Linked DNA regions of Homo sapiens. The protein of the gene in region 1 interacts with the protein of each later gene in a biochemical or structural test. Each region holds a gene or a part of one and is shown in the gene's direction. Other genes may lie near its edges.

Region 1 (6,957 bases):
CCACAGGAAAAAGCTGTGGTGCTGAAAAAGAAGACAGCAAGAGTTTTGCAGAGATTGACTTCCAAGGAACATAGAGTCCCATGGAGAGGGTAGGAGGGGAAGTTGCTCCCCTCACTCCTGTGGCAGACTATGGACTGCTGAACTTGTTGGAGAAACCCTCTGCACCTGTGAGCCCAGGCATTGCTGTCAGTGGCAATTTGGGAACTTCTTTAGGGCAGAGCATTGGGTGGCCAGCTCATGCAGGCACACTCGCTCTCCCCCAAAACCTGAGTTGAAGTGGCAGGTGTCATACTGGTTATGCACCCATTGTGGGTCTGTTCTTCCCAAGGAATCCCAGCCCTTGTGTTTCTGCATCACTAGATCCTCCATGAACATTCCCCAGAACCCACTTAGACTGCAGCAACCACAGGGGACGGGTGGGACCCTGGGGAGCTATGGAATTCCTAGAAGTCTAGCTCTTAGGAGAAGGGAGAGTGTCTGTGCCAACGTACTCCTTTGGATAAAAGAAACCAGTTCATTTGCTCTCCTCTGCCTAAGAGCTCCCCACGTGTGAGAAGAGGCTGGCTGTGCCCCTCCCAGCAGAGACACAGGCATGGTTCTGGGGTCTGAAGGGGAGGAGTGTGGTTCTGCACCAGTAGGCAGGTGACACTGGTGCCTGGGAATAAACATGGAAAGGGAGTCTTCTCCTACCCCCTCACTCAATGCTCCAGATAGACCGTTGGCTGTCCCTACTGGGAGCTGGCACAAGTGCACCTGGGGATGGCTTTTGAGGGCTCCTGGGGGCAGCTGCACTCCCATTGATGGGGTGCCTGCTGGCCAAGCCTTGCACGAAGGGCAGAGTTTATCCTCCTCCCCATATGGAGCAGCAGCATTCCCATAGCAGAATGCAGATGAATATCAGAGCTGCTGAGGGAAGAGGTTCTATCCCAAGGCCATTTTGGTGGTAGCCACAGGACGGGTGTTTTCTGCAGACCTCCATCACACTGCAGCCTGGAGATGAAGGACAATGTCTATCTGAACTGAAGGTCACAAGCTCCGGGACAAGGGTGTTTTAGGAAAGTGGATTGCCTTCCTGCCTTCCCAGGATGTGGAGCTGGTATACTCCTTCCCACTCTGGTGGAGACATCAGTGCCTTTCACCATGAGCTCCCATTTCCACTCCCATCAAGGCAGTTGCTTCTGCTCATAATTGGGGTTTCCCAGGGTGAGCTTGGTCGTTTAGTGCCCCTCAGTTTTGTGTCCCCCTCCAAAGCTTTGTGTTCCCTTCAGGGAATCAGGCCATCCACAGACCAGCCAACTGCCTGTGACAACAGAGATCCCCTCCCAGAAAACAAAGACCAAGTACCCATCAGCTTATGCCACAGCCAGCTTTTATTGGGATGCAGATTGAATTGCACAACCAAATAAAAAACAGGCTGACAGAGGGTATAGTGCTGGGGAATGAGATAAACTTTCAGAGACTTCCACATTCCCAGCCCCTCAGAAGGTAGTATTCCTGCTCATATGCCCAATACATTGCTACTACAATCAGCATAATAAAGCCACCACACAAAAGCTATCTATACAGCATAATAAAGCCACCACACAAAAGCTATCTATGACCAAGGAACTCATACAGAGCTGTGACCCACGGAAGGCACCCAAAATTGAAGCCAAATGATCACACACAACATACAGTCACACCTTCAAAGGGGGAAAAAATCCCATTCAAATGAGAGTAAGTTCAAAAGTAAGAAGTAACGGGTTCTCTAGATGAGAAGAAATCAGCATAAGCACTCTGGAAGTACGAAAAACCAGTATTTTGACATGCCCAAAGGATCACACCAGCTCCCTAGCAATGGATCCTAACCAATATAAAAATTTTGAAATAACAAATAAAGAATTTAAGATATGAGTTGTAAGGAAGCTCAATGAGATACAAGAGAAAGTTGAAAACTAACATAAGGAAATCAGAAAAATAATTCAGGATATTAATGAAAAATTTACAAAAGAGATAGAGATTAAAAAACAAAAACCAAATAGAACTTCTAGAAATAAAAATTTATTGAAGGAACTATAAAATATAGTTGAAACTTTTAGCAAAAGACTAGACCAAGCAGAAGAAATAATTTCAGAGCCTGAAGGCCAGTCATTTGAATTAACCTAGTCAGACAGAAATACAGAAAAAATAAATTTTTAAAAATGAACAAAGACTTTGAAAAATATAGAATTACATAAAGTTACCAAATATACAATATATAGACATTCCTGAGGGAGAAGAAAAAAAATTAAAAGCTTGGAAAACCTATTTGAGGGAATAATTCAGGAAAACTTCCCTGGTCTTGCTAGAGAATTAGACATCCAGATAGGAGATGCTCAGAGAACACCTGGAAGATGCTTTACAAGAGAAACCTCATAAAGGCATATCGTCATCAGACTATCCAAAGTCAATGTGAAGGAAAACATCCTAAAAGCAGCAAGAGAGAAATGTCTAATCTATACAGGAAAACCCAACAGACTAACAATGGACTTCTTAGCAGAAACCTTACAAGCCAGAAGAGATTGGGGTCTTATGTTTAATCTACTTAAACAAAAATCCTGCCAGCCAAGAATTTTGTATCCTGCTAAACTAAGCTGCATAAATGAAGGAGAAATAAAGTTTTTCCCATACAACAAATGCAAAGGGAATTTGTCACCACAAGACCAGCACTACAAGAAATGCTTAAAGTTCTAAACATGGAAATGAATGGACAATACTCCTCATCATAAAAGCACATTAAAGTGAAAAACTCACAGATTATATAAAGCAATTACATAATTGAGACTAAAAAGCAACTGGGTAACAATTATCATGACAGGAACAAAACATCACATATCAATATTAACCTTGATAATAAATGGAGTAAATGTTCCACTTAAAAGATACAGATTGGTGCTGGGTATGATGGCTTACACTTGTAATCTCAGAACTTCGGTAGGCTGAGGCAGGAGAATTGCTTGAGACCAGGAGTTTGAGACCAGCGTGGGCAACAGAGTGAGACCCCATCTCTGTAAAAAATTAAAAAGAGAAATTAGCCAGGTGTGATCATGCTCACCTGTAAAGAGGCTGAGGCAGGACAATCACTTGAGCCCAGGAGTTTGAGGCTGCAGTGAGCTATAAATGCATTATGGCACTCTAGCCTGGGTGACAGAGTGAGACTGTCTCAAAAAAAAAAAAAATACATACAGACTAAAAGATTGGATAAAAGTAGCATCAGCTCAGGGGTCCTAACTAGTTACAAGAACAGTGCACAAGACAAACACCAGCTAAGATGGCAGGGAGAACAAGCCTGAACAAGGCAAGGCAGAGGTCTGCTAAGGGAAATCCATCCCACAAAAGACAAGCAAGGCAGGGGCTCTCTGAGGCCTAGAGCAGCATGCAAAAGAGCAACTCTTTCCAGGTGGCAGCTCCCTAGCTGCTGCCCCCACATGCTGCTGCCTCTGCAGCCACTCTACCTGCCCCACCCCTGCCCAGGTATTCCAAGCAGCTCTCAGCTCTTTCCCAATATCTGGGCAGTGCTGTTGAGACAAAGGAAGAGGAGAAGTGGACACAGCAGGTCTTGGCTCTTAAGATCTGCAGTTGTGAGTTCCTTTTGCAATCGCTGTAGGTCATTGTGCAACCTGCTGGTCTCTGGACTCCTGATTTCTAGACATCTATAAAATACAGACACTGATGATGCCACTTAATTCACAGAGCTGCAGTGAGAAAGGTGCAGATGAGTTCAAGGCCTGATAGTGTTCTGCAAACTATAGTGATGGATGTGCATAGTATTGTGAATATCAGTGGCAGGTTTCCAGAACGCAGGTGGGGATAAGAGTGAGTGAGTCAATAAAGAAGAAAATTGCCCCACTTCTTGAAGGGAGTTTTTGGGGCTGGGCAGCTCAGGGTACAGGGCAGGCATAAATAGTGAGTGCCTGCCAAGCAAAGGCTAGTTTGCTTGGAGCTCCTGGGGCCTAACAAAAAGAAACCTGTAAGTGTCTCTGTTCTTGCCTTCTTTTTATTTTCTCCACATCCTATAAATATCCCTCTGCCGACCTGGGCAATTCAACCTATTGGTGTGGAGGGTCTGTGTAGCTGTTCTGGTCTAGGAGGCATGGGCGCAGGAGGTGGGGAGCACAGGAGGTCTTATGGTGCTCTTCTGCCCCTTATTCAGTGGCCTCAGCCCAGGGGAGGATTTGCTTTCTGAGCTGGGGGTGCACAGGGTGGAAGAGTGGGTGTGACACTATCTAGACCTGGGATGCCACAGTGTGGAAGCTTCAGGTGGAAAAATGCAATGCTAATTTATCTCTAGGCTCTTTTCTGCACTGATTTCTTCAGAAAGGACAGTGGAAGAGAGACAAACCCAGGCACTCACAGGCTGGGGTTCTAAACCCATCCTGGTGCCAACAGCCTGTGGAAAAGCAGGGCAAGCCTGTTTTTCTCATAGCTTCAGGTCTTTACTTTAAAAAATATACTTACTGGAGTAGGTCTCTGATTTTCCAATCCATGTTCAGAGGAGATGGCCTTTTCAATGAAATTGTACTCTGAAAGCTTAGCATAAACTGGGCACTGCAGGGGTTGAGGGGGACCACAACTCTGCCCACTCCATCTGCTGCCCCAGCTAAGATGCCTCATCTGAATCCTGGGCCTGAAAACCCGGGTCTGCCCTCTCCAAGTGTCCTTCAAGCCACAGTGGCTGCTGGTGCCTTCTGTGCCATCTTGAGCCTGTAGACAGAATGCCTATTGCCTTTCATTCTTCCCCAGAATCAGACACAGGGCCTGAGGGGTGAGGGAGCTGCGGGGCACAGAACAATGCCCTTGCTCTGGCCTGGGTCTGGCCCTTGCTGCTCATGATTGAGCCTCTGCCAGAACAGGTGTAACAAGGTAGCCGCTGCTGGCAGTGAGCTCACCCAGGTGTTTCTAGAGACTACCAGGATACCCAAGGAAGTGGTGATTTCAAAATTGAAAGAGGCTAGTGAGAAATAGGGGTCATCCACAGCCCAGAATCACCAGCAGTCAAAGAAGAAGGCACTCCTCTGGGCAGGAAGCCCCCCACTTGCCACCACCCCAGTTGGCCTGGTGACCCCTTTCTTTGCACAAGTCCCTCTGGCTTTGTTCCTAGCCTCTGCGAATCTGATCAGCTCTTTTCACTCTCATAACTTTACGGTTTCTCATTGAGAGAAAAGATACCCAAAACAGTTAATGTCCCAGGTCCTGCTCTTATCCTGGTCTCAGTTCCTGACCATCTTAGATAGTAAATGGGTGCCCTGTTGGGTAGTTGCTCTTGCTTACCCACAACACTAGCTTTCTGCCTGACTGAGCCTACCTGGCATGTCCTCTTTCCATATAAGACTTCTTTTTTTTTCTGAGATGGAGTCTCACTCTCTTGCCCAGGCTGGAGTGCAGTGGCACGATCTCGGCTCACTGCACCCTCCACCTCCCGGGTTCAAGAGATTCTCCTGCCTCAGCCTCCCGAGTAGCTGGGATTACAGCACGCACCACCACATCTGGCTAATTTTTTATACTTTTAGTAGAGATGGGGTTTTGCCATGTTGGCCAGGCTGGTCTCGAACTCCTGACTTCAAGTGATCTGCCCGCCTCGGCCTCCCAAAGTGCTGGGGTTACAGGCATGAGCGACCGTGCCCAGACTCCACATACTTCTTTTCCAAACCCTCTCAGGTCTTAGAAGAACTCTAGGTGTCTCAGGATTTCTCCTACTGCTAGTTTAGTGTCTCTGAAAACTTTCACCTGGGTTCCCTCTGGGACTTTTCTCTAGAGACAGCACCTGCTCGAGGAATGGCAAATTGCCAGGCAAATGTGCACCACACTCCCAGCCTGCGCTCAGGAAGGACATTACTAAGCACTCAGGACTCTGGCTGCATTTTCAGACCAGCACTATCAGCACCAGTGCTAGTCCATGCAAGGCAGCAAGAGAGAAGAAACAGGCTTGCCTTGTCTGAGCTAAGCCAGTTGCCTCAGTGGTACAGACAGGGAGATGGTCTAGGGAGTGGGCGGGGGGTGTCCTGCCCAGAGGCACTCAATGAACCCTTCTTGATGTGACAGATGGCCCCAGTGAGGAATGCTACATCCTAGCCACTGTGCCAAACTTAGTGCCCAAGGGAAGGCACAAGAAGGGAAGACATGAGCACCTGGGAATGGGGGATGCTGCTGTCAACCTATGTCAGAGTTCCAGCTGGGTAACTCATGCTCTCCATCCAGACCTTGTGCCCTCCTTGTCCTTAAACTGCTTTTGGATTCCTGCTGCTCTAGGCCCCATAGCAGAGGACAGAAGGAGGGAATGGGGGCTTCTTGTCACCTCTAGAAGCTGAGCCAAGCCCTAAACCATGTCCATGAAGCATAAGCATGTCTTTTCTCTTTCTGTTCACCTCTCCAGGCCATGCTGCTCTTCCTCCTCTCTGCACTGGTCCTGCTCACACAGCCCCTGGGCTACCTGGAAGCAGAAATGAAGACCTACTCCCACAGAACAATGCCCAGTGCTTGCACCCTGGTCATGTGTAGCTCAGTGGAGAGTGGCCTGCCTGGTCGCGATGGACGGGATGGGAGAGAGGGCCCTCGGGGCGAGAAGGGGGACCCAGGTAGGGTGGGGCCCTGGGCTTATCCTGCTGGGGAGGAATGGTCATTGGAACTGTAACTAGCCCAGCAACTCTGGGTACTTTGTTATGGAAGTCTGGAGACGTGTTTCTTCCTCCCAAGAAGGCGAGTTCCACACTGCTCCACCAGCTGGCAAACAAGTGGCTGTGCTGAGCCCCCATGTGCCTCCTCCAGCACCCAACTGCCCTAGCTCCTCCTCTAGGATCCCCGGATCCTTCCTATCCCAAGAGCAAGCAAACAGTGGTAAATTACTGATATCTGGGGCCTTCTAGAGCCCTGTGCCAGCAGTTAGCAGTTGTTCATTCCAATTAAATGATGCCTGTGCAGGGCATTAAATATTTTAAATAT
Region 2 (7,222 bases), on another chromosome or scaffold:
GGACCACAGGCATAGACCACCATACTCAGCTAGTTTTTTGTTTGTTTGTTTGTTTTTGATAGAGACGGGGTTTCACCATGTTGCCCAGGCTGGTCTCAACTCCTGAGCTCAGGTGATCTGCCCGCCTTAGCCTCCCAAAGTGCTGGGATTACAGGCCTGAGCCACCGCACGCCAGCCTGCATTTTTTCCAAATGTTCTAATCTTTCTCATTTTATTATTTTTTTTTTTTTAATTTTTTTTTTGACACAAGACCTCACTCTGTCACCCAGCCTGGAGTGCAGTGGCCTGATCACAGCTTACTGCAGCCTTGAACTCCCAGGCTCAAGAGATCCTCCCACCCCAGCCTCTCAAGTAGATGGGACTACAGGCATATGCCACCACACCCAGCTAATTTTTGTATTCTTTTGTAGAGATGGAGTTTGCCCATATTGCCCAGGCTGATCTCCAACTCCTGGGCTCAAGTGATCCTCCCGCTTCAGCCTCCCAAGGTGCTGGGATTACAGGCATGAGCCACCACACCCAGCCCAGCTGTTAATCTTATTGATGATTAATTATACGTGATGGGTCACTTGTCAGTTGCTGCTTTCAAGGTTCTCTTTTTATCGTTCAATAATTTGATTATGATATGTCTGGTGATGGATATCTTTGAGTTTATCCTATTTGAAGATTATTGAGCTTCTTGGCTCTAGATTGATGGTTTTTTTCATCAAATTTTGGGAGTTTTCAGCCATTCTTTCTTCATATATTCTTTTTTACCCCTTTCTTTTTGTCCTCTCCTTCTGGGATTCCCATTATTTGATGATGTCTCACAGGTCTCTGAAGTTCTGTTCACTTATCTTCGTGCTTTTTTCTTTCTGTTCCTTAGACTTGATCATCTCAACTGATCTATACTCACGTTCACCGATCTTTTCTTCTGCCTACTCAAATCTGTTGTTGAACCCTCTATTCCTCTATTGAATTTTTTCTTTTTTTTTTTTTTTGAGACGGAGTCTCGCTCTGTCGCCCAAGCTGGAGTGCAGTGGCGCGATCTCGGCTCACCGCAACCTCCACTTCCCGAGTTCAAGTGATTATCCTGCCTCAGCCTCCTGAGTAGCTGGTACTACAGGCCCATACCACCATGCCTGATTAATTTTGTGTATTTTTAGTAGAGACAGGGTTTCACCATGTTAGCCAGGATGGCCTCGATCTCCTGACCTCGTGATCTGTCCACCTCGGCCTCCCAAAGTGCTGGGATTACAGGCATGAGCCACCACGCCTGGCCCATTTGAATTTTTTCATTTTAGTTACTGTACTTTTCAAGTCCCAAGTTTCTGTTTAGTTCTTTTAAAATAATTTCTGCTTTTAGGCCAGGCATGGTGGCTCACACCTGTAATCCCAGCACTTTGGGAGGCCAAAGTGGGAGGTTCACTTGAGGTCAGGAGTTCAAGACTAGCCTGGCCAACACTCCATCTCAAAAAAAAAGACAGTATTCTTTAGCATTAGTTCCGCTAATGATTGGACAAAGATTTCCTTAGCCTCCAAAAACCAATAATCTCCTAGCCTTTGCTGAGGCATGGTGGGCCATGCTTTCGACATTCAGCCAGGCAATTGACAACTCTGCCTTCGCCACTACTTCTCCCAGGAAGGCACACATCCTCAAGGTCAGCCCAATGTAAGAAGACTGGGTTCTCATCTCTGGTCTTTCTTGAGCCTGCATATACTCCTGGGCATGCACACAACCCTATGCATGCATGTGACCTTCTAGATTTCCAAGAATATTTTGGAGTTTTTCAAAGCCTTCTCATTCCCCAGCTTTATCTTTTAAACTGTTTCATTAGCCTATTATTGGCCTCAACTGTTATTCATTGCTTAGGCAGCTGCCTAGTTAAACAATTGCATGCAATTGTGTTTCACAAATGCCCCTGGGGAAATAATTTTGACGATGTATGAGCTCTAAGTTAGGTCAAATACAGACAACATTGCAAGTAGGGGCTTCCAGGGAACCATAAGACGAATCAAATAATTCTGACTTTCTGGGAGTGAGGCTTTTATGGAGTTTCATCCTCTTCTGCCCCGTTTGGTGTATGCCAGGCTGCTAGTTTCCACTGAGAATGCTGGCAGTTAATATTCAAGGCTACCATGGAGCTGGAATGGGGGAATGGAACTAGGCCAATTAAAAATGTCACAAAGTATAAAAATTAGCCGGGCGTGGTGGCGGGCGCCTGTAATCCTAGCTACTCGGGAGGCTGAGGCAGGAGAATTGCTTGAACCTGGGAGGCAGAGGTTGCAGTGAACTGAGATCGTGCCACTGCATTCCAGCCTGGGCGACAGTGAGACTCTGTCTCAAGAAAACAAAAATAAAAATAAATTTTAAAAAAGTCATAAAGTTCACTGCTCTTACTAAGATTCAGCTGCTTTTCTTGAATAAACACTTTACAGATTTTTGTTGTTGTTGTGGAGACAGAGTCTCACTCTGTCACCCAGGCTGGAGAGCAATGGCACGACCTCAGCTCACTGCAACCTCTGCCTTCGAGGTTCAAGCGATTAGCTCCTGCCTCAGCCTCCTGAGTAGCTGGGATTACAGGCACTTGCCACCACGACTGGCTAATTTTGTATTTTTAGTAGAGATAGGGTTTCACCATGTTAGTCAGCCTGACCTCAGGTGATCCCCCCACCCTGGCCTCCCAAAGTGCTGGGATTACAGGCGTGAGCCACCACGACTGGCCAAAAAAACTATTTTAAAATCTAAAGTGGGTTGACTAAAACCAAATTAACCATTTTAATCGGAAAACATCTCATGTATCTTATTACCAAACCAGTGCCTTGACGATGGGATTTTCAGTGTCATTTGCCAAATTCGCAGGCACCGCAGTGGGGAGCCACTGCTCCCACAGCAGAGGCAATACACGGCCTAGCCTTGGGGTTGAGAAGTTCTGGGGACGGTGTCGGGGGCCCTGGGCCACCATTTTTGCATGGAGCCAGCCCTGCGCTGCGAGGGCGTGGCATCGGAGAGACCGTGGCCTCGTGGGCAGCATCGGCGGCCCCTGGGGACACGCGCTGGCTCAGTCCCCACCTCCGCCAGGGAAGCGGTCTGATGATACCCATTTCGCAGATGGGCAAATCCACAAGCCAAGTCGTGCCGCCCAGAAGAGGCAGAACCGGGATTTGAACCTAGGTTTCTCATTCTGCACCTGAAGAAATAAATGTCTGGTCCATGCGTGTGTTGGGGGGCGACGGGGACTTTTCTTCAACCAAGCCCGGTGTGCCCCCTCTCATTTTCTAGCACGTTCTTCTCCCCCATCTTTGCACTTATCTCAGACTCCCCTCACACACCTATCCTGGGTGCCATCCTTTCCCTCAGCCCACCGCCCATGTAGTCAGCCTCCTAAGCGCCCCTTCCACCTGTCCCCTCATCTCCCCACTGCTCTGCCTCGGTCCAGCCCTGGCCTTGGCAGGGGTCCCTGCCTGGGCCTCCCCACGGGCTCCCGGCCTCACAGAGGAGCAGCCACCTGTGCAAGGTCACACAGCAGGAGAGACACTTCTGGGATTCAGGACCCACCTGTGGGTCCGAAGTGGATTTTTTGTTTGTTTGGTTTTGGAGACAGGGCCTGGCTCTGTCACTCAAGCTGGAGTGCAATGGCACGATCTTGGCTCACTGCAACCTCTGTCCCCAGGTTCAGCCATCCTCCCACCTCAGCCTCCCAAGTAGCTGGGACCACAGGCATGAGCCTGGCTAATTATTTTTGTATTTTTTATAGAAACGGGGTTTCACTATGTCACCCAGTCTGGTCTCAAACTACTGAGCTCAAGCGATCCGCCTACCTCAGTTTCCCAAAGTGCTGGGATTACAGGCCTGAGCTACCACGCCCCGCCCTGATTTGGATCTTGCTCCTATTCCCAGGAAGGCCCATGTCCTAGCAAGAGAGACACCAGGTGGTGCGCACGCCCCTCCACCTCCAACTCCTCCACCGCCAACAAAGCCTGGGACCCAGAGGCCATGGGTCCTACACAATCTGGTATTTCAGGTCTATAAATCATGGGGGTGGCAGGGAGCCCATCAAAGCTGTTCATCCAGCCTGGTCTGCCGGCTCAGCCTCTTGTCCACCCCACTGCCGTGCCCCAAAACACACACACACACACACACACCCTCCCTCCTTCCTGGGAGACTAGCCCAAGGAGGGGCCTGGGCGTATATAGGGAGCCACGGTGGGTGGGGCTGGCCAGAGAGGCTGCAGACAGAGAAGGTGAGGAGGGGGCCCTGGGAGTCTGGGTATGGCATGAGGGGTCTGAGGCTCAGGGAGGGGCAGTGCCAAGTTCAGGCCAGTGACTGCCCCACCGGAGCCCGGGTGTCCTCTTGTGCAAAATGCCTCCCCACCAGGGCTGTGGGTACATCAGTACCAGCCTGGGCCCCGCAGAGAGCTGGAGCAACCCCTCGAAGCCAGGGTGTGGCTCAGAGATGGGGGGTCCGGCTGGCCCTTTACGCTCCTGGCCTCATCCCTGCTCATGTGTCCCAGGATGATGGCGTCTGCGGCAGCAGCGGAGGCCGAGAAGGGATCTCCAGTTGTGGTGGGCCTGCTAGTTGTGGGCAATATCATTATTCTGGTGAGACTCGCCCCAGTGCTGGGAGCCGAGTGGTTGTGTGGTGGGGAGGGGACAGTCCTGAGCTCGGGGTGGGGGATGAGGGTCCAGAACTGTCTCTCGGGCAGACTCAGTGGTCAGCACAGCCTGGGTTGAAATCCCAGCTCTGCCTCTCCCCAGCTCTGTGACCTTAGCAAGCGACTGTCCCTCTCTGTGCCTTCTTTCCTCATCTATAGACTGTGTCCTCATTGTGTGGGCTGTTGTCATGTGGATTAATCCATGTGTGGCCCTCAGCTCAGAGAAAGTGCCCGACCAATGCTGGCTATCACCATCAGCATCACTATGGATATAAAGTGACAGCCTGGTGCACAGGAGGCCACAAGAAGGAAAAACAACAGTGTCTTTCAATTAACATTGGGTTTTGGTTTTGTGTTTTTTGTTTTGTTTTGTTTTGTTTTGTTTTGTTTTGTTTTGTTTTTGAGACGGAGTCTCACTCTGTTGCCCAGGCTGGAGTGCAGTGGCTGATCTCAGCTAACTGCAACCTCTAACTCCCGGGCTCAAGTGATTCTCCTGCCTCAGCCTCCAGAATAGCTGGGATTACAGGCGCACACCACCACGCCCGGCTAATTTTTTTTTTTTCAGACAGATTCTCCCTTTGTCACCCAGGCTGAAGTGCAGTGGCGAGATCTCGGCTCACTGCATCCTCCACCTCCTGGGCTCCAGCAATTCTCCTGCCTCAGCTTCCCGAGCAGCTGGGATTACAGGCACATGCTACCACACCCGGCTACTTTTTGTATTTTTAGAAGAGATGGGGTTTCACCATGTTGGCCAGGCTGGTCTTGAACTCCTGACCTGAGGTGATCTGCCCACCTCAGCCTCCCAAAGTGTTGGGATTACAGGTGTAAGCCACCGCGACTGGCCGTGTGTTTGTTTTAGAGACAGGGTCTCACTCTGTTGACCAGGCTGCAGTGCAGTGGTGTGATGCTTGCTCACTGCAGCCTCCAACTCCTGGGCTCAACTGATCCTCCTGCCTCAGCCTCCCAAGTAGCTGGGACTACAGGTGCACATCACCACATCTAGCTAATTTTTTTATTTTTTGTAGAGACGGGGTCTCACTATTGCCCAGGCTAGTCTCAAACTCCTGGGCTCAAGCAATCCTCCCGCCTCGGCCTCCCACAATGCTGGGACTGCAGGTGTGAGCCACCTTGCCTGGCCCATTTGTAATGTTTATGGCCATGGCCATGTTCCCCTCCTCGGGGAATAACAGCACTGTCAAGGGAGGGCAGATGGACCAAGCATCTCCTCTGTGCCAGTCCACTGCTCCAGCCTTTCCACGTGGCATCCCCTTTTATCCCCGAAGAAACTGGCAGCTGGGGCGTGGGGGTCGGTTGTCTGGCTGGGCTGTCTCTTCTCTCCTGGCCTCTGCTCACCCTCATCGCTGCTCATGGAAGGCGAGGTCTTTGCCCACTTTACTGAGAGGGCAGTGGAGGCTCCAAATGGGGAGGGAACTTGCTCGTGGAGATGCCTGGTGCCAGGGCTGCTGGCCCCGAGCAGACCTTCCTAACCCACCGCTCTGTCCAGCTGTCAGGCCTGTCCCTGTTTGCTGAGACCATATGGGTGACAGCCGACCAGTACCGTGTATACCCACTGATGGGAGTCTCAGGCAAGGATGACGTCTTCGCTGGTGCCTGGATTGCCATCTTCTGCGGCTTCTCCTTCTTCATGGTAGCCAGTTTTGGTGTGGGTGCCGCACTCTGCCGCCGCCGGTCCATGGTCCTCACGGTGAGACTCCAGGGGTTGGGGGATGGGGACACTGAAAACGGAGTTCAGCATCACTGAGTCATAGTAGCAGGTGCAGCCCCAGCCACTAGTGTGAGTTCCCCATGGTGTCACACTCAGGGATCCCAGGCATCATCTCATTCAGTCTTCCCACAGCCCAATAACCCAGGCTTGAGTAGCAGAGCTGGGATTTTTTCTTTTTTTTTTTTTTGGTAAAGATGGGGGTCTCACTATGTTGCCCAGGCTGGTCTCAAACTCCTGGCTCAAATGATTCTCCTGCCTCAGCCTCCCAAAGTGCTGGGATTACAGGCTTGAGCCCCTCTACCTGCACCCAGTGCAGGGCTAGAATTTGAACCCCTGCTAGCTGCTTTCCAGAGTCCATGCTCATGAACTCTGCCAATAATAGCACAGCTACCATTTAATAATGGTTTACTACAAGCCACGAGCTGTTCTAAATGGTTTACTGGATTAGTTCATTTATTCCTCATAGTCCACCAAGAGATACTGTCATCATCATGACCCTGTTTGATGAAGATTGAAACTGAGGCTCAGAGAAGTGAAGTCACTTATCCAGGGTCACACATTGAGACAATGGCAGAGCCAGTTTCAACCTGAGCAGATCGGCTCTTGAGGCTGTGCTCTTAATCTCTGCCCACAAGAATAACCCATACTTCCCAAGTGTCTCTCATGCACCTGACACTAGGGTAAGCAGTTTAGAAAATGAGCTTCGTGGCCAGGCGCAGTGGCTCATGCCTGTAATCCCAGCACGTGGGGAGGCTGAGGCGGACAGATCATTTGAGGTCGGGAGTCCAAGACCAGACTGGCCAACATGGCGAAATCCCATCTCTAAAAAAAAAAAAAAAAAAAAAATTAGCCACGCATGGTG

The links. Proteins that work in one complex are often made in the same cells at the same time.
Region 2: the proteins of SFTPD (region 1) and UPK1A form a complex in vitro, tested with the Homo sapiens proteins (one study listed by IntAct).

Annotation. Positions count from the first base shown.
Region 1 is NC_000010.11:79,946,097-79,953,053, reverse strand, and holds the start of SFTPD (pulmonary surfactant-associated protein D precursor), read left to right. Parts: upstream 1-3,948; 5' UTR 3,949-3,988; intron 3,989-6,391; 5' UTR 6,392-6,394; coding exon 6,395-6,593; intron 6,594-6,957.
Region 2 is NC_000019.10:35,662,316-35,669,537, forward strand, and holds the start of UPK1A (uroplakin-1a), read left to right. Parts: upstream 1-4,201; 5' UTR 4,202-4,223; intron 4,224-4,493; 5' UTR 4,494-4,497; coding exon 4,498-4,581; intron 4,582-5,632; exon of another isoform or gene 5,633-6,138; coding exon 6,139-6,339; exon of another isoform or gene 6,340-6,370; intron 6,371-7,222. UniProt on the Homo sapiens protein: Component of the asymmetric unit membrane (AUM); a highly specialized biomembrane elaborated by terminally differentiated urothelial cells.